2 linked regions of the Homo sapiens genome follow. The protein of the gene in region 2 purifies or fractionates together with the protein of the main gene of each other region. This does not show direct contact. Each region holds a gene or a part of one and is shown on either strand. Other genes may lie near its edges.

What was found.
Region 1: the proteins of SLC23A3 (region 2) and PRODH purify together in Homo sapiens (affinity purification with mass spectrometry; 2 studies listed by BioGRID and IntAct, with this or other methods). This does not show direct contact.

Annotation. Positions count from the first base shown.
Region 1 is NC_000022.11:18,916,283-18,931,701, reverse strand, and holds part of PRODH (proline dehydrogenase 1, mitochondrial isoform 1 precursor), read left to right. Parts: intron 1-503; coding exon 504-712; intron 713-5,979; coding exon 5,980-6,014; intron 6,015-6,501; coding exon 6,502-6,651; intron 6,652-8,522; coding exon 8,523-8,587; intron 8,588-8,768; coding exon 8,769-8,885; intron 8,886-9,297; coding exon 9,298-9,377; intron 9,378-10,278; coding exon 10,279-10,360; intron 10,361-11,903; coding exon 11,904-11,996; intron 11,997-12,104; coding exon 12,105-12,251; intron 12,252-13,210; coding exon 13,211-13,386; intron 13,387-14,713; coding exon 14,714-14,812; intron 14,813-15,419. UniProt on the Homo sapiens protein: Converts proline to delta-1-pyrroline-5-carboxylate.
Region 2 is NC_000002.12:219,159,629-219,174,112, forward strand, and holds SLC23A3 (solute carrier family 23 member 3), read right to left. Parts: upstream 10,402-14,484; 5' UTR 10,357-10,401; coding exon 10,195-10,356; intron 10,051-10,194; coding exon 9,893-10,050; intron 9,779-9,892; coding exon 9,681-9,778; coding exon of another isoform or gene 9,657-9,680; intron 9,475-9,656; coding exon 9,401-9,474; intron 9,206-9,400; coding exon 9,024-9,205; intron 8,691-9,023; coding exon 8,567-8,690; intron 8,417-8,566; coding exon 8,302-8,416; intron 5,795-8,301; coding exon 5,541-5,794; intron 4,711-5,540; coding exon 4,605-4,710; intron 3,928-4,604; coding exon 3,760-3,927; intron 2,767-3,759; coding exon 2,671-2,766; intron 2,577-2,670; coding exon 2,281-2,576; 3' UTR 1,837-2,280; downstream 1-1,836. Other genes in the region: protein CNPPD1, read right to left, coding at 12,958-13,500, 13,722-13,839. UniProt on the Homo sapiens protein: Acts as a sodium-dependent hypoxanthine transporter. May show xanthine-hypoxanthine exchange activity.

The sequences.
Region 1 (15,419 bases), on a different chromosome or scaffold from region 2:
GATAAGAGGGAACAAAACATTGAAAAATCTGGGCACTCAAGTACTAGAAAGTCAAGTTAGATCCTCCTCTTCCGCAGCAGAACTACCAAGGTGTGGATACAGAGGATGGTCTCAAAATGCCGGCTGTCATCCCCAGGGAGGCTGGCCATTCTCCTTTTTATCCACCAAGCAGTGGTCAGGCACCCACTGTGTGCTGCTGGAGTGACTCATGGGTGGGGCCCTGAAGGGGCAGAGTCCAGGTGGGAACAGTGTCCTCAGGCCAAGCAGGCAGCACCTCCTGTGGTCTCTCTGCCCTGGATGGGAACTGGAGTGATGGACAGGGTGGAGAAGCAAGCGGCTTTAGCTGGTCTTCACCATGAAACTGACCCTGAAAGCCCAGTCGCCAAGAGACCATATCGAGGCCCCATGGCTGGGGTGAAGTGTGGTCGGGGATGAGCAGCGGTGCCTTGCTGGGAAAGGAGAGTTCAGGCAGCCCAGGACAGCGGCTTCCCTTTGCCTTTCAGCTGCTGTATGTTTCCAGGAAACTTCTAGGACAGAGGCTATTCAACAAGCTCATGAAGATGACCTTCTATGGGCATTTTGTAGCCGGGGAGGACCAGGAGTCCATCCAGCCCCTGCTTCGGCACTACAGGGCCTTCGGTGTCAGCGCCATCCTGGACTATGGAGTGGAGGAGGACCTGAGCCCCGAGGAGGCAGAGCACAAGGAGATGGAGTAAGGCCTGCCCGGTGTCTGCGGGCTTTCTGATCATGACCCTGGAGCACCCAGTGGGAGCAGGTGGGATGTATCCAGCTGCTGGGCTTCAGCCTCAGCTGGGCAGAGGCCAAGGCTAGGAGAGCTTGGTCAGCCCAACTACCGATGACCCTCCTGGGCTCTGCCTGGAGTTCTTGCATTTTTGTTTCATGCGGTGGACAGCTCTGGGCTTTCATGGGAGGCCTGGTGTGCGTGAGGCCTGAGGAAGCAGAGTACAGAATGGCCCTTGGCCCTATCTAGTCCACCGCCTGGAGGAGCACAGGCACCAGCATATGAACCAAGCACTCTGCAAAGAATGGTTGGTCTCGCCTGGATCTCACATGAGCCAGGGACTGCTCCAGGAAGTGGAGGGAAACGTGGTCTTGTTGTTCTGTCCTGATGCCCTGCCCAGGAGGGCGGGTCAGGGTGGTACCAACTGCCCTCTACACTCACTGCCCAGGGAAGGGGCCTTGTATCAGCTTAGTGGCCTCCAGGAGCTGACTCCAGGCCGGCCTGCTACACTGCTCCTGGCTTCAATTCCCTTCTCCACTGACAATGGGGCAGGGGCCAGGCCTGGGAGGTTCCACAACTGCAGGGCAGGCTGAGGCCAGGCAAGGGTCGGGCAGTGGGACCTGCCTGCGGGTCAGGAATCCCTGCAAAAGAGAGGCTGTAGCAGAGCCTCCTCCATCAGGTCAGCAAGTTTGTGTAAACAGCCAGGTAGCACAGACTCTCAGTCGGGCCACACCCTCCCTGCCACAACGGCTTCACTCTGCCTCAGTAGGGCCATAGTAATTAGAATTTCATATAATTTTCTTGTGTCACAAAATATTATTCTTGTTTTGATTTCTTTCAACCAGTTTTTTTAAAGTAGGGTCTTGCTCTGTTGCCCAGGCTAGAGTGCAGTGGTGCCATTGTTCACTGCAGCCAACCTTCTGGGCTCAAGTGATCCTCCCATCTGAGCCCCCTAAGTAGCTGGGACCACAGGCACGCACCACCATACCTGGCTAAGTTTTAATTTTTTTTTGTAAAGATGGGATCTCCCTATGTCTTCCTATGTATTTGGGTCCCCTGCACCCTGACAGCAGCCGGGCCTGACCCACATAAGGCTTGGGACAGTCCCTCTGTGGACCTGGTCAGGCCTTGGTGGTTGTTCCTGCCCCTCCCCTGGTGGCTGGCCTGGGAAGGGGAGGGAAAGGCAGTCACATGAGGCCTCCAGCCCTGGGAACGGAATGTCTGAGGCTTGCCTCAGCATGTCGGCTGCCAGCTGCCTGGAGAGGATTGGCCAGGGGAGCCCAGCCCCTGCCTTGCGATTGGCTGTTTTGAAGGTGGGGTACTACAGCCCCAGCACCCCACTGTGTTCCTAGCAGGCCCCGTGGGCCTTGCAGCTGCCTGAGCTCTTGGCTGCAGCCTTTGCTGAGCTGCCTGTTGAATAACCAATGGCCTGTGTGTTCTCAGAAGGAGTCTGGGTGGGGACTTGGTTTCACAATGGGATTTTCCTCTCAGGCGCCTCTGGTATGAAAAGACTCCTTTCCCAGGGTGGTCCTGCCTGGCTTCCTCCCTGCCCTGCAGGCTGAGTGTCTGGAGGTGGACTGGCCTGCACTCTGCCAGGGGGCTGGGCACCTGTGTCCTTAGGAGCTTGAGTCCTTTGCCCTGCAAGGGATTCACCTGTCTTGCTGCTGGTGGCTGCTGTCTGCAGGGGTCCTGCTCCAGCTCTGGGAAGTGAACAGGGTTCCCTCCTGTCCTCACAGGGGTGCATGCTGAGGACACCTACCGAGCTCAGCTGCTTTGTGCTTTCAGAGGGGCCTGAGCCATGGGGGTAGGGCTGGGTCTGCAAGCACTGGTCTGATGTCCACACTGCAGCATGGCCTGCTTGGCCAGGAGTGACCAGTCACGCAGACCCTAGTGCAGGGAACTGCTTAGAGATCTGCCTTCCTAACCTACCCTCCTGTCACAAGGGCCATGGGCTCTACTCTGGGGAGAGACACTGAGGCCACCGCCCCAAATTAAGGCCATGGCAAGTGGTGCTGGCCGTGAGAGGCCCAGGGAGGATGGAGGCGTCTGAGTGCATGGCAAAGTGAGTCCCAGCAGTGCTCCCGAGAAAGAAAGAGGAGGTGGGAGCCTGGAGGTGCAGGAGGGCAATGCCCACCCGGGGGGGGGGTGGACCATGCTTCCCAGAGGCCAGGGCCCCACCCAACCCCAGGAGAGGAGTCCCAGGGATCCCCGAAGCAGGCTGAGGGCTTGGGGATGGGGAAGGGGCCAAGGCATCTTCCTGATGATTGGGCTGTGAGGGAACACCTAGGGGGTGGATGGGGGCATTGGTCTGGCTGTGCAGGCCCAGGGCTGGCTGGAGGCAGGATATGTGTGCAGTGAGTGTCCTGAGCGAGGGGCTGGGGAGGCAGAGGGTTGGGGAGCTGGGGAGGGGGGTACAGGTAGGAAGCGGCTTGCCAGGCTTCCCTCCAGGAGAGAGTTGGACAAGGGCGGGGTGTGGACCCCCATGCTCTGCTTGTTTCAATAGGCATCACGTCCCCAGGGACAGCCACCCAGAGCTGAGGTGGAGGCTGAGGGGGTGGTCAGGGTCTTCCTGCTGTCTCTGAAGACCCCCTGGGGACACGTGCTTGTCCTCCTCTGCCCTATGTCCCCTTGTCGCTCTTCCCTCCTCTGTTGTCCCAGGTCGTGCCCATGTGTGCGATCATGTGCCCTTCAACAGACTATGCCCTGGGCATGATGAGGGGTGGGACTGGGGGAGCACGAGGCAGGTCCTGGCTTTAAGGAGGCATTGGGATGTGGTCCCCACCCTGATCAGGGCCCCACATCCACTGGTTCACCCTTCCTCCTCTAACACCCCACAGCTGCCAGTGCCATGTGCCCCCCTCTTCCCTGTGGTGCCTTGAGCCAGGACGTGGCAACGTCCCAGGTGGCGAAAGCCAGATTTCCTGTGTGGCACCCGCAGTTCTGAATCAGCTGCTCCCAGGGTGCTTTCTTCCTCTTCTCCAGTGGAAATAGGACCCCTGACCTGCCTGGGAACCACCATTTGTGTCTCCTTGTGACTTATCCATGATGCCTGTTGGAGAGTGTGGCCCTGTCCTTGCTGCGTAGCCATCCACTCTGAGACCTGGCTGCCCCTCTGGCCACTGCACGTGCTGTGTGGTCATCTTGGCCACTGCTTGGCTGTGTCAGCCTGGTCTGTGCTCTGGAAGTTCACGGAGAGGAGCAGCGGTAGCCTATGGTGTTCTGCCTCTGAGTGTGTCAGAGCAGGAGAGGGAGCAGCCCTGGCTTCCCCAGCCTCTCCTGCCAGGCCCACCTCAGAGGATGAACACAGCAGCTGTGGGAATGCTGAGCGGGAACTCATCTGCCTGGGGACCTGTCAGATAATGATCCTGTTTCATGAAGGTGAGCTGCCTCACAGGCAGACACCTGTGTGGTTAAGTCCCGTGTTATCCAAACTGTGGGCTGTGTGGTTTCAGGATGGGACCTTCTCTTCAGGGTCATGGAGGCCCCTGAGGCCCTGTCCCCACTGTCTGCTGTTACTTGCCATGAGGGTTTCTGCCCTGGGCAGGGCCCTGGCTGCCACCCCGGCCTTAACATAGACAGTGAGTCCCCCTTGGGGATGGCTTTTCCTGGCTGTACCTAAGCCTTGGCGTGAAGGTCTTAGGGCTGATCTCATGACTGGTCTTGAGGTGCCCAAGCCAGGGGCCCAGGAGCTCCCTGTCTCAGGCAGGGGTTCACGTGCTGCCTGCCTGTTCCCTAGTCACATGGTGACATTCCACCCTCTTCTGTCACATCTCTGTCAGCATAAGGTGGCCAGAGCATATCTGCCTGCCAGCTCCCATCACTGGGCTGCAGCCTCAGGGGCCCTGGCAGCACATGTGGAGTCCCTGGCCCATGTGGGGCTGCCCAGGAGTGGGTGGGAGGGAAGGCCTCCTGGCGGGGGCTCCTGGCCCAGGGCTTGCTCCTTGAGCAGCCAGGTGGAAAGTGGGCAGCTGAGGCCCCTTGACATGGAGGCCTCTGGGATGCGGCTCACTGACCACTGCTCTGCCTTTCCCCTTCCCGGCATCTGAGGGGGACCCTCTCCTTTCCTGTGAGTGTGGGCAGAGCTGCCCCTGAGGGTCCGAGCGCCTCTGGGGAGCTTCAGGAAGGCTCTGGGTGCTGTTGGTCATGCAGCTGAGCTCTCTCCGTGGTCACTGACTTGATCAGGTTTGAATATAAAGTCAGGTGACCCTCAGAGCTGCTCCGGGGGCCAGGGAGACCATGGTCGCTTTGTCACAGCAGACTTAACGGCCGCAGCAACTCTTGCTAGCCTGGATGACACAGCACTGAAACCAAGTGCCAGAAGCAGATTGTGGCTGTGGGGAGGAGGAGGAAGAAGAGGAGGCTCTGGCAGGGGTGCAGGGCTGGTGGGGGAGGGGAGCCAGGTACCCTAGAGAAGGGAGGGGCCAGGGGGAATGGGGGTGCTGGCCAGGCGGGGATGGAGAGGCTTCTGCAGGAAGGACAGGGGCTTGGCTGAGCAGAGTGTGGCCAGCCTAGCGGGGGACAGCCTGCATCCTGGCCTCACTGGTCTTGAGGTGCCCAAGCCAGGGGCCCAGGACTTTGGGCATTACTAGGAAATGATGGGAACCCTGGGTGGGGTGGCGTGAAACAAGATGAGATGGTAAGATCTGCTTTCACTTTAAAGGAACATTTCTGGTTGTTGCTTGGAAAAGAAGTGTCGGGGCAAGAATGCTACAGGAGGGCCGGCCTGGAGGACAGGGCGGGACTGCAGGGCTGGCTGTGCGGGGGCAGGAGCCTGTGCTTGCATCAGAGCTGCCTGGGAGACCCTGGCTCTGGGGTGGAGGCCTGAGTAAGGGGGCCTCGCTGGGGATTTGGGGACCTCTGTGTGCTGGTGCCTTCCCGCCTCCGTTCCTCTCAGCCCTGACTGGCTCTGTCTTGGAACCAGGTAACTACCTTTATTTGAGAACCTGCTGCAAGCCCTGGGCTGTTCTGAGAGCTCAGGAATATCGTTCTGATTTCTCCACCCACAAGGAGCCCCGGGCTTCCTGAGCCCTTGGGACACAGCAGCCCCATAAACTGCTGCCCCTCCCAGGCCCAAGTGTTCCACCCCAGGCTAGGGGTGGGGCTGGGGCTGCACCTTGGAATCTACCCTCCACCGGGGTTGTGGTGGGGCCCTCCGTGCAGCCTCAGTGGGAACGTGCCTGTCACCTGAGGCTCAGGTGGCGTGACCCTGACCTTTGCTCTCCCCCTCCTTCCCACAGGTCCTGCACCTCAGCTGCGGAGAGGGATGGCAGTGGTGAGTGAGAGGCTGCCGCGCAGGAACAGACTCCCTCCCGACTCCGCACACCCCTTGGTGGCTCAGGAGAGTCTAGGCTGGGGCACAAGTGGGCCTTGGGGTGACGTCGGAGCCCGGGCTCCTCCCTATGTCCAGGGCACCTGCCCTGTCGCTCTGGGCTCTGACATACTCGCAAGTGTCTGGGGAGACGCCCTGCTCCTTTTTCATGGCCTCCTGGTGGACCTAGGCCTTTGTTAAGGAGACTGCCGTCCTGGCCTCATGAGGAGGCTTAGCCAGGGGGATGCAGCACTCCAGGTGGAAGAGCCGCGGTGTAGACAGGAGGGTGGGCTTGGGGATGGGAACCATGGGGCAGTGCAGTGCCAGGGCCAGGCTGGCAAGGCCACTATGCTTGGAGCCCTCCTGAGGGCAGGGGCCCTGGGCTATTGGTGTGTGGGTGCTGGGGGTGGGTGTTTGGAGCTGTGCTCAGGCCGTGCATTCGCTATTCCAGGCACGAATAAGCGGGACAAGCAATACCAGGCCCACTGGGCCTTCGGGGACCGCAGGAATGGTGTCATCAGTGCCCGCACCTACTTCTACGCCAATGAGGCCAAGTGCGACAGCCACATGGAGACATTCTTGCGCTGCATCGAAGCCTCAGGTGGGGCCCCCTCTTTGCTGGCTATACCCCTGCCATGTCCCAGCCTGAGCGGACCCCTGGGCTCATGGAGGTGCCGGTGGGTGAACACTAAGCTGGGGCAGGAGCCAGAGGGCTGGGTTCTGACCACACTTGGGTCCCTCACTGTTCAGCCCCTTCCTGAGGGGCCCCACTGCCTCCCAGAAGGCATCTCCTCTCCTGCCCCAGCTCCCTGTTCCCTGATCCCGCCTCATGCCCCCCACCCTTCTCCCTGGCTCAGGGCCAGGATCGGGAGCTGCAGGAAGTTGGTCCATGTCAGCTGCCGAGCCACACTTAGCCCAGGGTGGAGGTTCCATTCAGGGAGCTGGTGCCGCATCTTCTGTCCTTCCCTGACACAGCCTCTGGGGGCCAGCGGTGGGGGCAGCAGGTGTTTCCAGGGATAGAGAAGCCAGAGGTCAGCAAGGCCCAATGTCCTTCAGTGTTAGAAACATCCGACCTGCACAGCCCCATGCTGGCCCCAGCAGCCCTCCGTCAGGGGCAGCGGGTCCCAGGCCTGTTTATGTTTTTGTTTGTTTGCTTCAAATGAGACTGGATCTTGCTCTGTCACCCAGGCTGGAGTGCTCACGCCTCTAATCCCAGCAATTTGGGAGGCCAAGGCGGGTGGATTGCCTGAGCTCAGTTCAAGACCAGCCTGGGCAACATGGTGAAACTCCGTCTCCACTAAAATACAAAAAATTAGCCGGGCGTGGCAGCAGGCGCTTGTAATCCCAGCTACTTGGGAGGCTGAGACAGGAGAATCACTTGAATCCAGGAGGCGGAGGTTGCAGTGAGCCAAGATTGCGCCACTGCACTCCAGCCTGGGCGACAGAGTGAGACTCCATCTCAAAAAAAAAAAAAAAAAATGAGGTCTCACTATGTTGCCCTGGTTGGCCTGGAACTCCTGGGCTCAAGTGATCCCTCCACCTTGGCCTCCCAAAGTGCTGGGATTACAGGCACACACTACCACACCCAGCTAATTTTCATATTTTTTGTAGAGATGGTGTTTCACCATGTTGCCCAGGCTGGTCTCAAACTCCTGGCCTCAAGCGAACCTTACACTTTGGCCTCCCAAAGTGCTGGGATTATAGGTGCATGCCGCTGCACCTGGCACTTCTGAGCAGTGCTTGGAAGCCGCCTCCTGATGGGGGCTGAGGGTCAGAGTGGCCAGCTGAATGCTGGGCCATCAGGGTGAGGGGCGTCTTCTCCTCGTCCATTGCCTGTTCTCCCAGGGCAGGTGGAAGGGGAAGGCCCTGCATTGGGGTGGCGTGAAACAAGATGAGATGGTAAGATCTGCTTTCACTTTAAAGGAACATTTCTGGTTGTTGCTTGGAAAGAAGTGTCAGGGGCAAGAATGCTGCAGGAGGGCTGGCCTGGAGGACAGGGTGGGACTGCGGGCTGGCTGCACGGGGGCAGGAGCCTGCGCTTGCGTCAGAGGTTCCTGAGAGACTCGGTCTCTGGGGCAGAGGCCTGAGCAAGGGGACCTCGCTGGGGTGTCTCTGTCTTAGCCACGCTCGGTGTTTCTGGGTCCTGTGACCCACGTGTGAGCAGCCTGTGGTGCTGGTGGCACAGGGAAGGAAACCGAGGCAGGGAGCCTGTGGGGGCTGCTTGGCAGGGGACAGGCAGCTCCTGTGCCCACTGCTGTCCCACACCTGCATGGAAACAGAAACCCCGCCACGGAGCCCCCTCCCATCTCCACAGGGCCTCTAGAGCGCCATGTGCAAGGACTTCATGGGCGGGGTGGGGTGGGGTCAGGAGCCTGCTGTGGGCTGGCCAGGCCCTGGCCCTCCCTGTCGCACCCTGCGCTGCCTCCATGCACCTCTCAGGGCTGTCATGGCTTTTCCTGTGGCTTCTGACAGGTAGAGTCAGCGATGACGGCTTCATAGCCATTAAGCTCACAGCACTGGGGAGACCCCAGTTTCTGGTAAGTGCTAGAACCTTCCACCTGCAGAGTCTGGTGCTGTGCGAGATCTCAGGGCAGCTGTGGGCATCCACCAAAAACACAGGTGCCCATGCCTTAGAGGCCTGAGCTGGCCACAGGGGCTGTGTGGGGGACTGGGGTGGGCAGGGGCGTGTGCAGATGGCATTCAGGCCTGCGTTTGCAGCTGCAGTTCTCAGAGGTGCTGGCCAAGTGGAGGTGCTTCTTTCACCAAATGGCTGTGGAGCAAGGGCAGGCGGGCCTGGCTGCCATGGACACCAAGCTGGAGGTGGCGGTGCTGCAGGTGGGGCAGCCTTCCCCTTCCCCACTCCTGTGGCTTGTGAGGGGGTGGGCACCGTGGGGTCACACGGGGCATGGTGGGCAGTGGTCGGAGGTGGTTTTGGGAACTCACCCAGGGCATGTGGCTCACTCTGCAGCTGCTGGGGTTGGCCTGGTGGGGAGGAGGAGGTCAGAGGGACTCTGAACAGAGAGGGGAGATGCTGGCAGGAGGGCTGGAGACCCAGCCCTGCAGGGCGTGGGCGTGCATCAGCAGCGGGGTGGGAATAGACCTGTCTATGCAGTAGAAACAAACCAGACATGGATCCTGTTCTTACTAACGATGTAATAAAGCCAGAAACAGCACCAGAGGCCAATGGGTGGGGGGAAGGATAAAATATGAGTGAATGGGGCTGATCCAGGCCTTCTCACTTCTCAAGGAAAGTGTCGCAAAGTTGGGCATCGCATCCAGGGCTGAGATTGAGGACTGGTTCACGGCAGAGACCCTGGGAGTGTCTGGGTGAGAGCAGCCCCCAGGCTGAGAGGACACGAGCATCAGCCATGGTTCCAGCCAAGCCCCAGTGACGTCTCCCAGTCCTGGCTGCCCTGCCTGAGAGGGTGGGCCCTGGGATGACAGTGCTGAAGGAACTGCTTTTCACACAGCAGGACTTGATGGCTTCAGGAGTCCCTGAGGCTGGGGCTGGGCTGGGCAGGGGAGACACAGGGCCAGCACAGACCCCATAGAGGGCTCTTTATAGAATTATCTGGGTCCAGAGCAAAGGTGGCACTCTCAGCCCTCCCTGGAGTCCACGCCGGCAGGTGAAGGATCAGAGCCCCATGCCCCATCCTTGGAGCCAGGGGCTGGGACCCAGATCACCAGGAGCCTCCAGTTGAAGTGGGGAGGTGACTGGGGTGGTGCAGTAGTGAGCCATCCCCTCACACACTGCCAGCCTTGCCCACTGTGTCCTCCCTGGCCGCCCGGAGCTGTGTCCGCCTCCTGCCTGGCTGCCTGTGCTCGGCCCCTCCACAAGCCCAAAACAGCCTAGGGTACTCAGTGTTTTCAGAGCCGCCTAGATGCAGGACTGTTTGTGTTTTGGTTTTAAATTTATTTAATTAATTTATTTTTTATAGAGACCAGGTCTCACCATGTTGCCCAGGCTGGTTTCAAACCCCTGGGCTCAAGTGACCTGCCCGCCGCAGCCCCCAAAGTGCTGGGATTATAAGTTTGAGCCCCCGCATGCCACTGGTTTTAAATTTTTAAACAGAAAACAATATTTATATTTCCTCTGTCTTTTAAAACTGAACACCGAGGTGGGTTTTGTGGTGGGTGGTGAACGGACAGGTTTGGGCCTCGATCCCCCACCCGACCCTAGCACCCACAGGTGGGGGTGCCCCCTCTGCTGATGCGCCTCCTCCCTCAGCACCATGGACCTGCTGGACTGGAGCAGCCTCATCGACAGCAGGACCAAGCTGTCCAAGCACTTGGTAGTCCCCAACGCACAGGTAACACCTCCGCTCCTCAGTGAGGCCCAGCTCAGCAGGGCGCTGCGCTAAGAAGGGAATTCAGCCTGCCACGTGTGTCTCTTGTTGCCTACCCTGGGAACTTAACATGACCAAAATCACTGCACACTATGGCCCCACAGACCCCCTGTGGTCCAGGGGGAAGAAGACAAGCCCACTAGTGTCCACAGAGTGCTTGGCGGGACAGAGACCCACGCGGAGCCTTAAGACACCACAAGGAGAGGGGGTCTGGGGGCCTTCCCCAAGTCATCTGTCTTGTGCATCAGGTCACCCCAAACTTCAGAGGCCTGAAACGGCAGCAGCCACTCTGCTTCTGCCTCATGGTTCTGGGGTTGACAGGGCTCAGCTGGGCAGTCCTCCCCTGGGGTCTCCTGGGTAGCTGTACTCACAGAGTGGTGGCGCTGGGACCTGGGGGAGGCACCCATTCACATGTCTGGGAGTTGGTGCTGGCTGTGGCTTGGGCTTTTTCCCAACATGGCAGCTGGGCTCTAAGGGCCAGTGTCACCTGAGACGTGAGAGCCAGGCAGAAGCTGGGTGACCTTTTCCTGCCTCGCCTCAGAAGTCACACGGTGTCTTTTCTGGCAAGTTCTGTTTGTTAGAAGCATGTCACCAGGCCAGCCTGTATACAGCGGGGAGAGGAATGAGACTCATCTGCCTGTGGGAGGGGGGCCCAGGACCTGGCAGACTGCTTGAAACCACAGCTTAAACTGGGATTCAAAGAAAGAACAGAAGCACCTTCAGAAAACATCCTGCAGAGGCAGCTTTCCATGACACATCTAGCCCCAGTCCACTAAGGGCCCAGCCTCAAACTTAGAGCCCCCGACCCAGAGCCTCGGGGCGCAGTGCGTACAGTGTGGCTGTGCACCAAGGCCACCAGCTGTTGGAGACTTTAGCATGGTGTAGCAAGGGATAGAGTGGTACTGTTTGTGCCCAGTGAGGCAAGGCTGCTGGGGCCAGCAAAGGGGTGAGCGGGAGGCCCTGCGGGATGGGTCCCCACGGCCTCTGAGCACCAGCAACTTGAAGGCCTCATCCTGGTGGTTGCCCTGGTCCCTGGCTACGTGTCAGCACGTGCTGCACAACTGCCCTGTCTGCCTGTAGCCAGGGGTCTTCCTCCTGGGCCCTCTGCCTGCTCCGGGTGGAGCCCTTCTGTTTGACGATTGGGTGATCAGTGTTCACTTGTTCAATGTCACATGGGAGTTGCAGGGGGCTCTCCCACAACGGTGGGGCCTCTGTGGGAACTGGGGAGTACACACTTCGGAGTGCAGGCCTGGACTGAGCCTGGGGCCCACTGACATGGGCACTGAGCTCCCTCGTGGTACCCCTAGGCCCCGCATAGGGCAGTGCACTGGCTGCGTTGGAGGTTCAGGGGCACTGTGCTGCTTGTCCAGGTGGCCCTCCCTCCCAGCCCTGCACAGACGGGTGAGAGGGTTCCTGTGGGCTGGGAATACTGAGAGAGGTTTAGCCTGGGCCTCAGGGTGGCACTTTCCCGCCCTTGCTGTGGCCTGACCGCGTGTTGCACCCCCAGACAGGACAGCTGGAGCCCCTGCTGTCCCGGTTCACTGAGGAGGAGGAGCTACAGATGACCAGGATGCTACAGCGGATGGATGTCCTGGCCAAGGTGAGCTGTCCCGCTCGGGCAGAGGGTACCTGGGACTCGTGGAGAAGAGGGCACCTGCCTCACTTGAGCAACAGTTGCTCCCACTCTCCCACCCCCTGCGCCTCTCAGAAAGCCACAGAGATGGGCGTGCGGCTGATGGTGGATGCCGAGCAGACCTACTTCCAGCCGGCCATCAGCCGCCTGACGCTGGAGATGCAGCGGAAGTTCAATGTGGAGAAGCCGCTCATCTTCAACACATACCAGTGCTACCTCAAGGCAAGCCCCCGCTCAGCCCCTCCCTGCCTGCCCTGGGGCTTGGAGACCCCACAGGAGGGGCTCCTCTCATCTGAGCTCCCTGGCATTTGGCTGGTTTTACACTCAGCACCCACCAGGGAGCTCATGGGATGGAGGAGGGAGTGGGCCGTGCCCCCAAGGGGTTGTTGGGGTCTTCTGCAGCACAGCTCACCCAGCGGGCCCCAGGGTCCAGGAAAGAGCCCCTTAGGTGGTGGCCACAGCCAGGCCTGCAGAGGAGGCTGAGGCCAGGGTGACTGCCTCAGAGTAGCAAGAAAGACCCGCTGCCCGCAACCTCTCCCCTGGTTCTCAGAACCAGCCAAGAGTGTCTAAGGAGCAGGAGGAAGACAACAATCTTTATGAGGGTCCACTAGATGTACCCGACACCCCAAACTTGGAAGGTGTCACATGACCATTTCCTCCAGCGTGTTTTCAGTTCAGCGCCCCTAAGAACCTCCTGAAAGCTTTGGGCCCTCCCCGGAAAGACTCACCCAGGATGTCACATGTATTCAGGGAGCCCACCCTAGCCTTTGGGCCCCAAACTGCTCAGGGATGTTAGCAGGTCCAGAGCTCTCAGGGGTGAGCCGGATGCCCAGAGGACACAGGGTGGCATGGGGAGGGGTCCAGGCAGGAGCATGCAGTATGCACCCCTCCCGGTCGGCCTGGGAGTCTGGAGCACATGATGGCTGCTGGCGCCTGGGCTGCACCCACAGGGCCGTCCACAGGCCACACAGGAAGTTGCAGACGTCCCCACTGCCATTGCTCCTTGGGGACAGAGGTTGGAGGCCCATCCTCACCCACACCTGCTCCAGGTGCCCTGAGCTGCACCTCCCCAGGCAGCTGCTGCCCAGCCCTGGTGACTGCACCTGGGCCCAGGAAGGCCCCATCCTGCTGTCACTTGGGCTTGCCCAGGCTCCCTGTGACTTTTGGCCCTGGCCCCACAGGATGCCTATGACAATGTGACCCTGGACGTGGAGCTGGCTCGCCGTGAGGGCTGGTGTTTTGGGGCCAAGCTGGTGCGGGGCGCATACCTGGCCCAGGAGCGAGCCCGTGCGGCAGAGATCGGCTATGAGGACCCCATCAACCCCACGTACGAGGCCACCAACGCCATGTACCACAGGTGCGCAGCTCTCCCACCCCTCTGTCTTCTCAGGGCAGGGCGCCAAGAAACCAGGCCTGAGGGAGAGGCTTGGAGACTGAACTTGTCAGCCACATGTGTCCCCAGGTCAGAACTGGTATTTCCTCAGCTTTTATGTCATGTGTTACTTTTTCAAAAGCATTAAGGTTATTCTTTTATAAATATAGAAAAGCCTATTGAACAAAGCAAAATTGGCCACAGTTCCCTGAGCTTGCTCCTGCAGACACTTAGATCCAGAGATGTGCATGAACACCCGGTCCTCCCCACCCTGCAGGCTCAGCCTGTTTGCTTTTCAGTTCACACAGTGGGATCGCCCATCAGCTGTTCTGCACCTGCTTTTACTGCTCTAGTTTCTTGGTGATCTTTTCATGTAGCACAGGCTGGCCAACCATGGGCTTTTCCTCTTAGAGGCGTGTGTGCATGCTGCAAATTCAGAGAGACCCCAAGTGTCTCCTGGTTGGCTCCAGCTCCCCTCCTGCAGCCGCTGTGCATGTCGTGCCACAGCGCACACATCTCCGCCATTGTTTTTTGCGTTGTAGCGTGTCCTCTGCCCGATGTGTTTTTCATTTCGCGTTCCATCTGGGTCCTCTTGTGTGGGCTTGCAGAGTGGTGCTGTCAACAGCCAGCATGGAGTGCCCGGGGCTATGTGTCCAGCATCTTTGATCTTATTGGTTTTTAGTCTGGTTATTGTAATGGACTCGCTGGACATACCGTCACCCTCTGTGGTACACACGGGCCGTCAGGGGTTTTGTGTCTGAGGATGCAGCTGTCCTAGGTTGCTGGAAATGGAATTGCTGGGTCAGAGAGAACGTGCGTGTGGTCAAGCCTGCTGAGTGACCTCGCTGCAGGAGGGCCGTACTGCTCGGGCTTCCTGGTGCACCGGGATGCCCACCCCCACTGTGCCCTACAGGGACCTGCTTCCCTTTTATTTCCTTGCAGGGCCAGGGGTGCACTGTACGATCCCTCCCCAGAAGCAAAGCTGTGTCTGTCATGAGGCTCATGGGCATGTTTGGGCTGGTCCCCAGAGTCACAGCACGTTTGATGCAGGGACTCTGCCCCCACAGCTGGTTCTGCGTGAATTGTCTGGTCCCAGACATCGCTTTTGCTTGGTTGCTGGTCTTTCTTTTTCATGAGGTGCTGGGAGGGGCAGATGCTGCTCCTGTTCCTCCTGATCCTGTGGATACCCTTGGAAAGAGCCAGCTCAATGGATGGATCTGGGTCTGCCCTCGGCCTCCTCTCTGTGCAGCTGGTAATGAGAGGTGCAGGCAGCCACAGGCCTGGAACTGGGCTCACATGGCACTCTCCACAGGTGCCTGGACTACGTGTTGGAGGAGCTGAAGCACAACGCCAAGGCCAAGGTGATGGTGGCCTCCCACAATGAGGACACAGTGCGCTTTGCACTGCGCAGGTAGGTGTGCCCCACCCTGCACCGAAACCCCAACCTGAGCCGTTGTCTCCTCCGGCTGGGGAGAGGTGGCAGCAGCGCAGAGCTCAGGGTGGGCAGAGCGACCTGCTGGGTGGTCGGGCATTTGTGGGGAAAGGCTGGTGAAATGAGCTGGAGGGTGGCTTCAGTGGGCAGGCCCAGGCCCGCTGGCGTTCTGGACATCGGACTGTGAGAGCACAATGGCTTTTTGCAGTTACGTTGGTTTTTAAAATTAACTTTTTTCTTTTTTTGAGATAGAATCTCGCTCTGTCACCTATGCTGGAGTGCAGTGGCGTGGTCTCGGCTCACTGCAACCTCCGCTTCCCAAGTTCAAGCAATTCTTCATGCCTCAGCCTCCCAAGTAGCTGGGATTACAGGCATGTGCCACCACGCCTGGCTAATGTTTTGTATTTTTAGCAGAGACAGGGTTTCACCGTGTTGGCCAGACTGGTCTCAAACTCCTGGCCTCAAGTGATCCTCCCTTCTTGGCCTCCCAAAGTGCTGGGATTACAAGCATCAGCCACTGTACCCAGACTTTTAAAAATTAACATCTGACTTATTAAACTTCACAATTAAAAAACTAAATTTCATC
Region 2 (14,484 bases):
TTCTTTATGGCATCCTCAAAGCCTTGTGTTTGGAGGATGGTGTTTCCGTCACATTTCCCACATGCTGCTCTTATGGGGACAGAAGTGGTCATGGGATGATTAAGCTAGTCCTAGCCGGACAAGAGCTCCACAATGCCAAAGGTCACAAACGCGAATAAAGTCGCCACTTTCATCTCCCTTATAGGCACTCCCCAGTGTACTCTTAACAGTTGCCAAAATTGGGTTTACTATTCTAGCCCATTCCTTCGGAAAGCCCGGAAGCTCAGAACCCTCAAATTGATGGGTTTTGTTTGTCTGTTGGGTAAAGGGGGAGGAGTTTAAAATGTGGCCAGGAGTAACGGGCCCTATAAAAAGGCCTGACACATTGGGCACCAGACCCCGGCTGCCTGCTCCCACCACACGCGTCCCGTTCTGCGTCCGAAGCTTCTACACTTCATCCTTTTCTTTTTTCCTTCAAGGCTGCCTCTAACATTCACATTAACGAGATTCACGGGTTTATTTCTCTTGAGTGGAGGGGCGCTGAGCGGCATCCCGGCGGAGGGGTCCCTTGAGAACCTTTATCTGCACCGAGTCCGCTCCTCAGCAGTGACCCCTCTGGGCAGTTCCTCCGACGCCCTGCAGAGGGCAGTAGAGGCCCAGAGAGCATCCCGGCTGGGCCCCGCCCGGTCCCCCTGGGACAGCGCGAACCCTAGGTCCCACCACAACCATAGCCCCACCCCAGGAGCCGCCAGGCGTCCCGCTTCCACCCGCCCCAGCTATAACAGCCTTCGCTGTCCGCCTTCCCATTTCTACAGCACTGGCTGCACTGGGGCGCGGCTTCAAGGGGCAACAAAGCCGGCCACCAGCGGCTTCGTCGCACCAAACAGGCGACCAACGAGTACCTTCACTCGAGCCCTACCATCCACGCCGGGCAGCAGCCAGCGGACTGCGCACGCGCGGCCCCGCCCACCCCTCCCCCGGAGGCCTGCCCTGGACCCCGGCAGCGCGCGCTCCCTCCAGGGAGAAAAGGCCAGCGCCAGGGCCAACCCGCAGCGTCTGAGCAGCCCCTCGCTGGCTTGCTCCTGCCCGGACTCGAACGCGATTCCACCTACCGTCAGCGGCCGCGAGAGCGCCCACTCTCTTAGCCGCACGCACGCTTTCCTGCCCGCTCGCGCAAACCGAAAGGCCTAGAGTAAGAGGCCGCTTTCCCCCCACCGCAAGAGGAGGCAGGGTCTTGGGATACAGGGGCGGGGCCTATGCCTGGCGTGGGCGGGGCTTCTGGGCCTGGGACACTGATGAGAGGAGCGCCCCAGTGGCCAGGGTAAGTGGAGGAGAGGCCGGGCAGCCGGCTAGTAGAAGGGTAGTGGCGCGTCTTGGAGTCACGCTGGCCGAGTGGAAAGAATAGCGGGCGAGGCGCAGGAGAGGGGAGCCCAGGTTTGGATTTGTCAAACTTGAGTCACTTCTCTTCCCTCCCCTACCTATCCGGTCTCTTTTTAACAAAATAAGGGATTGAACTTCTGTAGATGATCTCTCAGGTCCTCCACCAGCACTAGAGTTGTTGAAGGAAGGAGTCTCCCAGGCATAAGTCCCATAGTCCGACCTCATCCTTTACCTCTCCTGCTTCATTTCTCCATCATCCCCGTACTTATACTCCCTCACTACTGAGAAATTTGAAACCCCTCACCTATCTTGGACTTTGTACAACCCATGGCTTTGCTCAAGCTGGACCCCGAACCTGAAAACTTCTCTGCATCCATTTTCCAAAACCAAAAATCCTCATTTGTCAAGGCCATCCTCATTGCTTCTTGCATAAAGCCTTTCCCACTGTCCCCAATCAGAATTCATTATCCCTTCCTCTTTGCTCCCACGGCATTATTTTAATCTTTATTACAGACTGCTTTCTGCTTTGCATTTTCGTTAGTAATTACAAAGGTCTTTTTAAACCGTAAATGCCTTGAGACGGCATGGACCCTGTCTTATCCCTGTAGTTCCAGGACCTTGCACATGGGAGATGCTCAGTAAGTATTAAAGTGAATGCTGGGGTTCAAGTGGCATTGATAGTACACAGGCAAAATCTCAATCATTCATGGTCCACTAAATCATGGCCTCTGCTCTGGAACAGTTAGGCCTAATTAAGACAAGGAAAGGCAACCCACCCTATTGGGAAATGGAACCTCTAGACAGTCCCATGTAATACACACACACATATCCTCTGCCTACAAGAAAGAACAGTTTGGGAGCTGACTCTCCAGCAGATGAGAGTTAGGGCTAAATTAACCAGGGCAGAAGTAGGCGTTCTGGTCATTTCTGGGACCTAAACCCTTCTCTGCTAGATTCAGGGCATGGCTCCCCTGAGCCAGGCAGCAAGTCTGCCATCTCTTCTGGCTCAGAGGAGCCTCCTTCCTCATCCCCAGGGTCTTCAGGCAGTGGGCAGAGGCAGTGGAGAGGCTGGGGGATGCAGGGACAGAGGTTTTGGATGGGGAAAGGAAGTCTGTACACTTGAGCAGCCTTCTCCCTGGGCTTCTGAGGCATTCGAGCCTCTTGGGCAGTGAAAGGAGATGGTAGCCCTTGACCTAGGCCTCGCTCAAGCTGTGTGCCTGCAAAAGAGAGGTTTGTCAGGCTATTGCCCATCCCAGGGAGGGATGGCTTCCTGGCCACTCCCCAGTCTGCTAGGGCCTAGCCTCAACTTACCAGGAATCGTGTTCTCTAGTAGGAAGCCTGAGAGTCCAGCCAGGAAGATGGGCTGTGTCAGCAGTGAGTGCAGTAATACATCCAAGGGGCTCCAGCCTATGAAGAGTTGGGGCCAGGCAGGAAGGGAACTCTGATCCTATATCCAAGCCCAGGAGTCTTACCCTCCCAGACCTAAACCTAAGCCTTGGACTAAGGACAGATCTTTCTGAATTGTCATTTCATCCCTCTCACCCTTTGTCTTTCTACTCTCCACTTTCCAAATCCAGGCCTTTCCCACAGGATTCCTGCTCAACACCCTGTGTTCTGATCATCCACACACCCTCCATATATGCTTTGACTATTCCAGGTTCCCTTTCTCTAGAAAGCGTAATATTTAAGTCCCAACCTCATCTCCCATTTTTTACCCTCTATGCTCTATCCTGGGTTTTTCAACCTCAGTCCTACTGACATCTTGGACCAGATAATTCTTTGTTGGGGGTGGTGGTGCAGGGGGGATGTCCTGTACAGTGTAGGATGTTTAGCAGCATCTTTCTATCCACTAAACCCTAGTAACAACTCCCTCTTCCTCCATTTGTAACAGCCAAAAATGTCTCCAGACATTGCCAAATGTCCCCATGGGGGCAAAATCACCCAGTTGAGAACTGGGTGAGACAAATTAAGCAATTTACTGCTCTCAGGACATATCCTAAGACTTCCCACTTCTGTGTCTTTGCATAAATGATGGTTCCTCCATCAGGAATGACCTTCTTCTCACCAAAGATGTTTAAAACTTACCATCCTTCAAGACCAGCTCTGTTACTGGATCACCTCAAACAGAAGCTATCTCTCTTGCCACTGAGCACTGTAGCTCTTTATCTGAACCTTTCCTGTTATTTTCCTACACATCTCATCTCTTGTACTACGCTGTAATAACGGAAGGCATCTTTGTATTCCAAATGGCTAGCATAGTGCTCAATAAATATCTGTTAAACAAATGGATGAAGTATTTACACCAAAGCCCAGAGAAGGCTGTGGGGCCAGGAGTCCGGGCAGCCTGAAGCCTCAACTTGCTTTCCTGCTACTGAGCAACGCCTCTTCCCTTCCACCTACCTGTGCTGAACAGGACTGGGGCTTCCCGAAACCATCTTGGCAGCAGCAAGGCCATGAAGATGGAGAAGCCCACAATGAAGATATTTCGCCCAGAGTCTATGTCAGCCAGGTAGAAGCTGGAGAATCCAGCAGACAAAACCACAGCCTGGGTCACCCCCAGCACCCCACCTGTCTCATACAGAAGAAATCAAGGGGGTCAGGAGGAGTCAAGGGGGCTCACATAGCATGGAGTATTGCAGGGCAAGCAGGTTGTAATGGGAAACAAATAAAACCCAAGAGAATGATTTTTGTTTTTTTTGTTTTTTTGTTTTTTTGGTTTTTTTTTGAGAGCAAGTCTCACTGTAACGCCCAGCCTGGAGTGCAGTGGTGCAATCTCGGCTCACTGCAACCTCCGCTTCCTACTCCCGGATTCAAGCGATTTCTCCTGCCTCAGCCTCCCGAGTAGCTGGGATTACAGGCATGTGCCACCACGCCCAGCTAATTTTTGCACTTTTAGTAGAGACAGGGTTTCATCATGTTGGCCAGGCTGATCTCGAACTCCTGACCTCAAGTGATCTGCCTGTCTGGGCCTCCCAAAGTGCTGGGATTACAGGTGTGGGCCACCACGCCCAGCCTGAGGCTGATTTCTGATTCTTCAGGAAGCCCAGAAGCCCAATCAAGAGAAGACCAAAATGTTGGGCTGAGAAATTGAGGCTGACACATGCTCATATCCATCCATCCATCCATCCATCCACCCATCCATCCAGGAAAGCTATTTAGAAGGAAAGGGTGCCATCCTAAAGAACTGATCAGGCCACACTGGGGAGTAGCAGTTCAATACCAGCCCTGTTGATACATCCACTCACCAACAACAGGCAGTGGGATGGTGGTGAGGAGCTGAGCCAACCTGGGGGAGAGTCCAAGCCCCACGCAGAGTAGCCCCACTAAGTGAGCCACTTGCTGAGATCCAGCCTGCATGAAGAAAAGACACTGGAAAACACAGCCACTTCCTCAGACTGTCCCAGGTCTTTGCCTTACTGGTTCCTTCTCATCATTTGGATCCCAGCTCAAATGTTACTCTTCCAAGAAGCCTTCCTGGCCAGTCTATCTAAACGTGCCTCCTTTCCATCCCACTACCCTGATTTTTTTATATAGCACTTATTGCCTTCTGAAATTTTCTTCACTTTTCTTTTTTTAATTTTTAATTTTTTGAGATGGAGTCTCGCTCTGTCGCCCAGGCTGGAGTGCAGTGGTGCGGTCTCGGCTCACAGCAACCTCTGCCTCCCAGGCTCAAGCGATTCTCCTGCCTCAGCCTCCTGAGTAGCTGGAATTATAGGTGCACAACACCATGCCCAGCTAATTTTTGTATTTTTAGTAGAGACAGGGTTTCACCATGTTGGCCAGGCTGGTCTTGAATTCCTAGCCTAAGTGATCTGCCTGCCTCAGCCTCCCCACGTGCTAGGATTACAGGTGTGAGCCACCATGCCTGGCCCACTTTTTTAAAAAGATACTTTTTTCCTTCAACTGTCTGCCTCTCCCTCTATGAAGTCCCCAAGAGAGCAGAACTTTATGTGACTGGTTCTTTGCCCTAGCCTTGATACAGTGCCTCATGCACAGGAGTTCCGTGGTGATTTGTTCACTTCCCCACTCTCTTAGCCCAAAGTCTAATCTTAGGCACCTCCCCAAGTAAGATAGTTGATGTGAGGTGCTAGGCACACCTGGCAATCAATCGGTGTAAGTTCCTGTCCTTCTTCTTCCCCTCTAGCTCCATCCTACCCCACTCCCATCCCAGGTCCACGTACCTGGATAAGACCCACTTTGCCCACGTTGGGGAAGCTGGATGCAGTGCCCATGGGGCTTCCCAGCAGCCCGGCCAGCACACTGCCCAGCCCCTCCAGGCTCAGCCCTCGACTGCAGGCATGTGGAGGTGGGGGAGGCAAATGCAGCAGCCGGCCACACAGGGCATAGCAGCCCAGGGAACTGGTGGAGGCTGCCAAGGCCATGGAGATGCCTGCAGCCAGAGCTCTGGGCGTCAGCAAAGGCCAATTCCACTCACCTGGGGAGGGAGAAGAAGCCACTTTGGGGCCAGACTCAAGTCAGGAGTACCCCCTGCCTCCAACAGCCTGTGCCACAAGAATCCTAGATGCCTCAATGTCTTTGAAGACAATGTCTTGGGACAAAACTACTGAACTCTAAGGAGAAAGACCCATGCCTTTACCATGGTCTACAAGGTCCTCTTTGGTCTGGCCCTTCCCTCTCTCTGCAGCCTTATCTCCCAGCACACTCTGCCTCACTTCCTTCATTCCTGCCACACTGGCCTTGTTGTAGGCCTTTGTACATGCTGTGCTCCCAGCCACCACAGGGCCTTTGCATATGCAGTTTCCTGCAACTAGAATGCGCTTCCCTCCTGCCTTTGTCTAGTTAGCTCCTACTCATCTCTTCCATCTCAACTCAGTGGCCACATCCTCAAGAATATCCTTACTTAGGCGGGGTGCAGTAGCTCACGCCTGTAATCCCAGCACTTTGGGAGGCCAAGGCAGGTGGCTCACCTGAGGTCAGGAGTTTGTGACCAGCCTGGCCAACATGGTGAAACCCCATCTCTACTAAAAATACAAAATTAGCCAGGCATGGTGGTGCATGCCTGTAATCCCAGCCACTTGGGAGGTGGAAGCAGGAGAATCACTTGAACCCGGAAGGCGGAGGTGCAGTTAGCCAAGATCACACCATTGCACTCCAGCCTGGGCGACAAGAGTGAAACTCCATTTCAAAAAAAAAAAAAAAATTTACTGACCTCCCTGATAAATTCAAATTCCCTATTATAAGTTTTTTGGTTTGTTTGTTTGTTTTGAGACAGGTCCTTGCTCTGTTACCCAGGCTGAAGTGCAGTAATGCAATCATAGCTCACTGCAGCCTCAATCTCTCGGGCTCAAGCGATCCTCCCACCTTAGCCTCTGAAGTAACTGGGACTAAAGGTGCATGCCACCATATCTGGCTAATTTTTTATACTGTTAATAGAGACGAGGTCTCACTATGTTGCCCAGGCTGGTCTCTAACTCCTGAGCTCAAGCAATCCTCCCACCTCAGCCTCCCAAAGTGCTGGAATTTCAGGTGTGAGCCATGGTGCCTGGCTATTTTATTTTATTTTATTTTATTTATTTTATTTTAATTTATTTTATTTTATTTTTATAAACAAGGTCTCACTCTGTCGCCTGGGCTAGAATGCAGTGGTGCAATCATAGCACACCGCAGCCTCCAACTCCTGGGCTCAAGTGATCCTCCTGCCTCAGTCTCCTGAGTAGCTAGGCCTACAAGCATGTGCCACTAGGCCCAGCTAATTTTTTTATGTTTTGTAGAGTGGAGTCTTGCTTTATTACCCAGGCTGCTCTCGAAATCCTTGCCTCAAGCAGTCTTCCTGCTTCTGCCTCCCAAAGTGCTGGGATTATAGGTGTGAGCCACTGTGCCTGGCCTCCATTATAAGCTCTTAGGACACAATGTATCTCCCTTTGGTTACACTTCCCACAATGGCAATTTTATATTTCCTCGGGTGACTCTTTAATTAGTATCTGTATTCCCCAATAGACTGTAAGCTCCCTGAAGGCAAGTACTGTTTCTGTCATGTTCATCACTATGTCCTCTACCATGTGCCTAGCACATAATCAGCAGTCAACAGATCCTTATTAAATTAATGAACAACCAGCCTGGACAACATGGCGAAATCCCGTCTCTACAAAACAACACAAAAATTAGCCAGGCATGGTGGTGCACGCTTGTAATCCCAGCTACTTGTGGGGCTGAGGCACAAGGATAGCTTGAGCCAAGGAGGTTGAGGCTGCAGTGAGCCATGTTTGCATCAATGCTCTCAGCCTGGGTAACACAGCAAGACCCTGTCCCAAAAAGTAAATTAAATAAATAAATAAATTGAAGAATGAGCAAATTTCACATACAATGCCTCAAAAGCAATCTTTATACATAGGTTGCCAAGTCAAATGCCCATAGGGGCTGGTAACATAAATGTGTTCATTGGGTAAGGAGTATTGGTAGTGAGTATCGGGGGTTACAGAAACAACAGATGTCTGTCTCCTAACACTGACCCAAATAAAACACCTGCAGTGGGATGGGGCACAGTGGCTCATGCCTGTAATCCCAGCATTTAATCAAGCAGATCACTTGAGCCCAGGAGTTTGAGACCAGCCTGGGCAACATGGTGAAACCCTGTCTCTACAAAAAAAAAAAAAAAAAAAAAAGCACACCTGTAGTCCCAGCTACTCCGGAGGCTTAGGTGGGAGGATCACCTGGGCCTGGGAGGTTGAGGTTGCGTGAGCCATGATCACGCCATGCACTCCACCCTGTATGACAGAGTGAGACCCTGTCTCAAACAAACAAACAAAAAAACACCTACAGTGAGGGGCTAGCATTGTCTGTCTCTCAGACTGATAATTTCTCTCTCCTATATGTTTTCAAAAAACACAGGATTTAACTCAGAAATAAAATCCATTAAGTTCTTTGAGTTCAAATAGATACCTTTATTTGAACAAGAGAATGGAGGACTAGGAGAAAACCTACCTGGGTGAGGCAGCCAAATCCATGGTGCCTTGGTGGGGGCAGACAGTTCCTGGGGGATAACACTGAATCCCACAAAGGCAGAAACAATCCACACACAGGCCACTGGGATCAGCACCTGAGGGGCGAGACTGAGAAAAGAACTCCTCCCCCAGAACCTTCTGAGCCAGCCTTGCAGGGGTAGACAGAAGCCAAAAGGTAGGGGATGGAGTGAGCACTCCAGGCCAGCCCTTCTGACCTCTACTGCCCTGCCCAGACCCACACATACCGAAAGGAGCCGGAAGACAGGGAGAGGAGTGTGAGTTGATGACGTTGAAGCTCGCCTCCAGGGGCACACATGAAACTGGCAGGAGCCCAGGTGCTGAGAACAGACCACCATGAGCAGGATAACCCTAGGAGACAGAAGGCTTTAGGAGCAAGAGGCAGTGGGTATCCTGAGGGATGGGAAAGGAGGTGGGAGTGGGCAGAATATCATAAGAGCGGGGGGTGATACCAGAGAAGGAAACTCCCATGGAAGGAATAGGAAGTGACCTTGGGGGACAGCAGAAAACAGTGTGAAATTCAAGGAGACCAGATGAATCAAGGAAAAGTCTTGGATTCCAAATATAAAATATGTCCCTATTCCAGTCGCTGCTGAATCTGATAGGACCAGCAGTTCTGCCCTCCCCTAGTCCCCCCATACACCCCCACTGGGCACCATCCCACGCCTCTCAGGACTCACGTACAGCAAGGCCAACCCCCAGTGTGTGAAGCAGAACTGGGCTACCTCCCTGTGGGCAGAGAGCCCTGCCACAACCAGGCTGGGAGCCAGCACCAGGGGCCCACAGTGGGGGAACACGTGGCCGGGACTCCCCAGCAGCCCCATCATGCCCTGCAGCAGCCCAGATACTACCACTGCCCCGGACACCTGGTAGAAGAGAGGAGAGGATGGAGAGAAAACATTCTGCTCAATCAAACTGGCCTCAGCCTGGTCTTCCTAATTCTAAGTATGGGTTCCTCCCAAAACTCCTTTCCAGGAGCATCTCAGTCTGTGCATAATGGAAACAAGAGCCCCCCCCAAGCCTGGCACCACCCTTATCCCTTCTCACCTCCAGATACCCACCTCCTGGAGAGAAGTGTTCCAGTGCCCCAGGCCATGGCAGCTAGGTCCCCTACAAAGGTGCAGCATGAGGGAGGCTAGGAAAAGTTTGGGGCATGGAGAAGAGAAGGGTGAATGGAATGGAGACCCATTGCTCTACAGTCCCACTCCTGGCACAGGTCCAAGCCCCCTATAGTGTCACAGTCTCACCACTGCCCAATCTCAATTCTGCACCCACCTACACCTGCATGCTCAGATGAGAACCCAGCCCCACCCTTACCCCTTGCCCTTGCTCTGTGCTCACAGTTTCCAGGTGTCTGGATGGCCCGGGGTAGCTTCTGGCTGGTCAGCACCAGAGCAGGGATAAGGAACTCTAAGGATGGAGCCTGGACAAGAGGCAGCCTGTAGGAACAGCAGCCCCAGCAGGTCTGGGACTATGTGGCAGCCAGCAAGGCTCCCCCAAACCTCTCCTACCCTCCAGGACTCTGCCCCTCTCTCCAGGGAGGTTCCTCTCACCTGCTGCCCATCCAAGTTTGCAGGATGGTAGACATACCACATGAAAAGAAGCTGGAGGCCAGGAGCTGAGAAGGGGAGTAAGAGAGTCCTCCTGGGGAGAGACTGCAAAGCAGGAGCAGGTGGGAGACACAGAGCAGAGAAGCCATGACCAAGACATGCTGCAGGTGGAGGAATGGGGAGGGCAGTCTTCAGAGAAGTGGAAATACCTACAATACTTCCAGAGGCTTTCACATGCCACATCTACACCTACTTCCCCACACACACCATCAGGCAGCACCAACTCCTGCACCTCTGCCTCCTACCTGCAGAGCCAGAAGACAGCTGAGGCCCCAAGGCAGAGATCCACACAAAGGGTCCCAAGAGTGGGTGGAGGGATTCTGGGGAGCAGGTGGAGGCAAGGGGGCCAGGGCATCCTGGGAGCCCACTGATCGGAGTTGGCTGGGATTGAGGGGTGATCGGCTCATGCTGCCTTGCCTTTCGCTTTGTCTTGGCTGCCCGGGACCAGAGTTAAGTAGAGAGAGTAAGAGGTCAGAGTTTGGGTGAAGCCTGGGGTGGGGAGAAGGTGGGGAGAGGGTGGGGGTGTCAATGAAGCGGAGCAAAGGTATAAGGAATTTGGGGCAGGGCACCACCCTTTCACCTTTGCCCAGCTGTTGTGCAAATTCCATCAGCCATTAACTGGGGAGCTGAGTTCTGGGGCCCTCCCCCGAGAATCTTCTTCCAGATTTCCTGCCCCTAGACCAGGCTGTAGAAAGTAGGATAGGAGGGGTGGGGAGGAGAGGAGCTCTTCAAAATAATATGGGGAAATTTTGCAGACTTTATTCCCTCCCATTTAAAACTATCACTATTTGATCCACAGTCCTCACCCCTTTCAGAACCAAGGCCCCTGGACTACTTCAAAATGAAACTTGTGGGCTCAGTATGGTGGCTCATGCCTGTAATCACACCACTTTGGGAGGCCGAACTGGGTGTATCACTTGAGGTGAGGAGTTCAAGACCAGCCTGGCAACATGGTGAAACCATCTCTACTAAAAATACAAAACTTAGCTGGATGTGGTGGCACATCCCTGTAATCCCACCTACTCGGGAGGCTGAGGCACAAGAATTGCTCGAACCCAGAAGGCGGAGGTTGTAGTGAGCTGAGACCGTGCCACTGCACTCCAGCCTGGGTGACAGAGTGAGACTGTGTCAAAAAAAAAAAGAAAAAAGAAAAAAAGAAACTTGTGGACAATATATCCTACATCACATGTGACAACCACAACTACCTGAAACATGCTCACTGTAAAGAATAAAATTTATAATAACATGTATTTCATTACGTGAAGGCTTAAGCACAACTAAACCAGAAGACAATAAAGTACAATGAAGTAGTCCAATCCCACACCCTATGAGAATTGCTGTGGTTGCAATAGCTGCAATGCCAGCTGATATTGGTGCTTTATCGGTGACTCTGATGTTGGTAACCCGATTTTCAAAATGGCAAACAAACTCTTGGTTAAGGTGCCAAGCAAAATAAAGTCGTCTTAATTTACATGGGAATGAATTCCTAGCAAACTGAGTCTTTTCAAAACGCACAAACGCTATTTCACGTTTACATGTGCAAAGACAGTTCTAGGCTCAGATAAACAGGGTTTTCATATACATAAAGCTGGTCATTCAAAAGTTGTCTTGGGAATTCTTCACAGTACGGGAGGTCTGAGCATTTCATGATGTCTAGCATCCCGCCCAGGTTGACGAAATGCCAGTAGCACCCCATCCCCTTGAATCCTTTTGACAATGAAAAAATAGCCCATAAATTTCCAAAATGCCCCCTAGGGGGCAGAACCACTTCTTCCGTGAAGTATCCTCAGCAGTCCCAAATACCCTCAGCCAAGCTGCCCAGACTGTTTTCCTTCCTCCAGTGATGACCCAGCCTTGGAGTTCTTCAAGTTCTTGGAATTGTTAAGCACCATGTGACCATCACCATGTGTCAGACCAGTGAGGAGGTCAGGAGAGAGAAGCGTCCTCGTGGCTTGCCCTCAGGAGCTCACAAGGCTCTGCTGGTTACAAGGCCTGGCCCCTCTCCACGAGATGTGCTTTGGGATCCACAAGGAGAGTGCTTACCCAGAACAAGTGACAGACAAGGCCAACTCAGGGACAGGACAGTCACCATGTGTGTCCCATGGCATCCCAAGTTGAGCAGTGCTAGGGCCCAGGGTCCTGGGAGCAGGAACAAAGTTGGAAATGGAAGCCTATGCCTATCAAACGATAGGAAAGTCCTGAGATGAGGCTGAGAAAACAGTTTGTGAGATGACAGGATCAGGAAGCAGGGAGGCTTGGAAGGCAGATACAGGGAGGAAAAATCTTCAAGGGCTGCCGCAGAAGGAAAAGTCCAGGCCATGCAACTGAAACTGTTTATTGAAACCTCAGTTCTACAAAAGCGTGAAAAACCCTGATACAAAGCAGTGGCCAGAGAGGCCTGGGAAGAGAATACCTGGGAGAAGAACCAGAAGAGAGGGAAACCTAGGAGCAGGACACTAAGAGAAGACTGGAAGACAAAAGATCAGGGTTGAAGGTCCCAGCAGTCCTTGGCTCCATTAGACTAAAGCTAAGGAATGGGAGTGAAAAGGGTTCCCTGCCTCACCCAGCAGCTCCCACCTGAACCCATCAGTCCCCGGCTCTTCTGCCTCAGGGACATCACACAGGCCCATGCCAACATTTCCTTTCTCCTCTCACCCCACTTCCCTTATCTCCCACCTATACTCTTCCATCCTAGGGAAATCAAAAGTAAAAGTCTAAAAAATCCCAGGGAGGCAGAGAGGGGCTTCTATGTCCATCTGGGACATGTCCCTGGTCACCAAGCGGAAGCTCTCCCTGGCGGCATCACTGTCCTGGCCAAGCAGCCAGCCACTGCGATCTAGGAGTGAATTACCTTCAGTCCTTCTGCCCCACCACCCCATAAGCTCCCACCCAGGAGGACAGGGGACCTGCCAAGGACCCAGCGAGGCAGACAGGATCTGAATCAAGCTTTGCTCCTCCAGGTTCTCAGAAACTCCCAAACCCTCTTAATGCATTCCTCACAGCCCTACCTAGCCTGGGAAAACGAAAGACTTGAGGCGAGCCAGCTCCATGACACTGAAAAGGGAACATTGCTGAGGCTGAGGAAGTGAAAGGAGCACCGGGCTCCAAGGCCAGGGGGGAGCCAGGCCATAGGTATGGTACCAGGGGCTGGACAGCGCAGTGGGGACTGTACGGTTGGGGTGGAGGCAGGCATGGCAGGTTGGGGAGTCTCTCTGGAGCTTCTGGCAAAGGTGGCAGTTATGAAGAAGAGTGGGAGGGGCAGGGGGGTCTGGGGGAGGCAATGGTGGAGGAGTCAGTGAGGCCAGAAGACTGCCCCAGAGTGACCGCAGCCCCATGCTGCCTTCCAGGCAGCTGGAGACATTAGCGAGAGACGGCAGGCATTGTGGCACAGAAGGTATGCAGGGCTCCAGGAGGCAACGGGAGGTCAGTCCAAGGTCAGGCGGCCCAGGTGTAGGGATGCAGGACAGCCCCAAAGACTGATGTATTACGGCCACCGATGCCACAGCCAGGGCCACACTGCTCACATATGCCACAGCTAACAGGCAAGACAGCTGCAGGAGAGGAGATAAGAAAGAAGGAATCTGTCTTTAACACATTCACCCCTTGTCTCTAGAAATCTGTGTTCCAGTTGGAGGTCTCTATAGCCATTTACACCCCACTCTGCCCATCTATTCCCAACCCCATCTCCTGGGCTTTTCAGCAATCACTTCACACCATCCCACCCTACACACCGGCCTGCTCAAGCTCCCTATCCTTCCGAGCCCCTCCTCACCTTTACCAGCCGCTGGCAGAGGGAGCCCAGGGCCAACTGCCAGGTCGGCTGCTCCAGCAGCACACACAGGTCTGTGTAGGTGTACCAGCCTCGCCACCGTCCCTGCTGCTCAGCCACACTGGGGGAAGTGGAGAAATGACAAGAGTATGCAACTGTCCTGCAGCCAGCCCAGTGGCACCCTCATACCACTCAGGACCCACCAGGAAACACTGGGAAGCCTGTTAAACCCAGATTCCTAGGCTATCTGCTGATCTAGAAACTAAGGGTGAGACCAAGACCTATATTTTATTTATTTTTATTTATTTATTTTGTTAAGACAGGATCTTGCTGTCTCCCAGGCTGGAGTGCAGTAGTGCAATCATAGCTCACTGCAGACTCAACATCCTGGACTCAAATGATCCTCTTGTCTCAGCCTCCTGAGTAGCTGGGATTATGGGTGTACACCACTGCATCTGGCTAGTATTTTTTTCTGGTAGGGTCAGGCATCTTGCTATATTGCCCAGGCTGGTCTCGAACTCCTGGACCCAAGTAATCCTCCAGCCTCACCCTCCCAGAGTGCTAGGATTATAGACATAACTACCATACCCACCCAATACATGTATTTTAAATAAGCTGCTTCTCACCTTCCCAAAGGTGATGAAGAAGAGGACAGATGGGTCTGGGAACCACTATCTGGGCAATTCTCTTTCTTGTCTCCTCCCTCCCCCAGTTACACAGACTCTCATCTCTAGCTCCTATGGCTGAGGACTCAGCCCCCAAATCC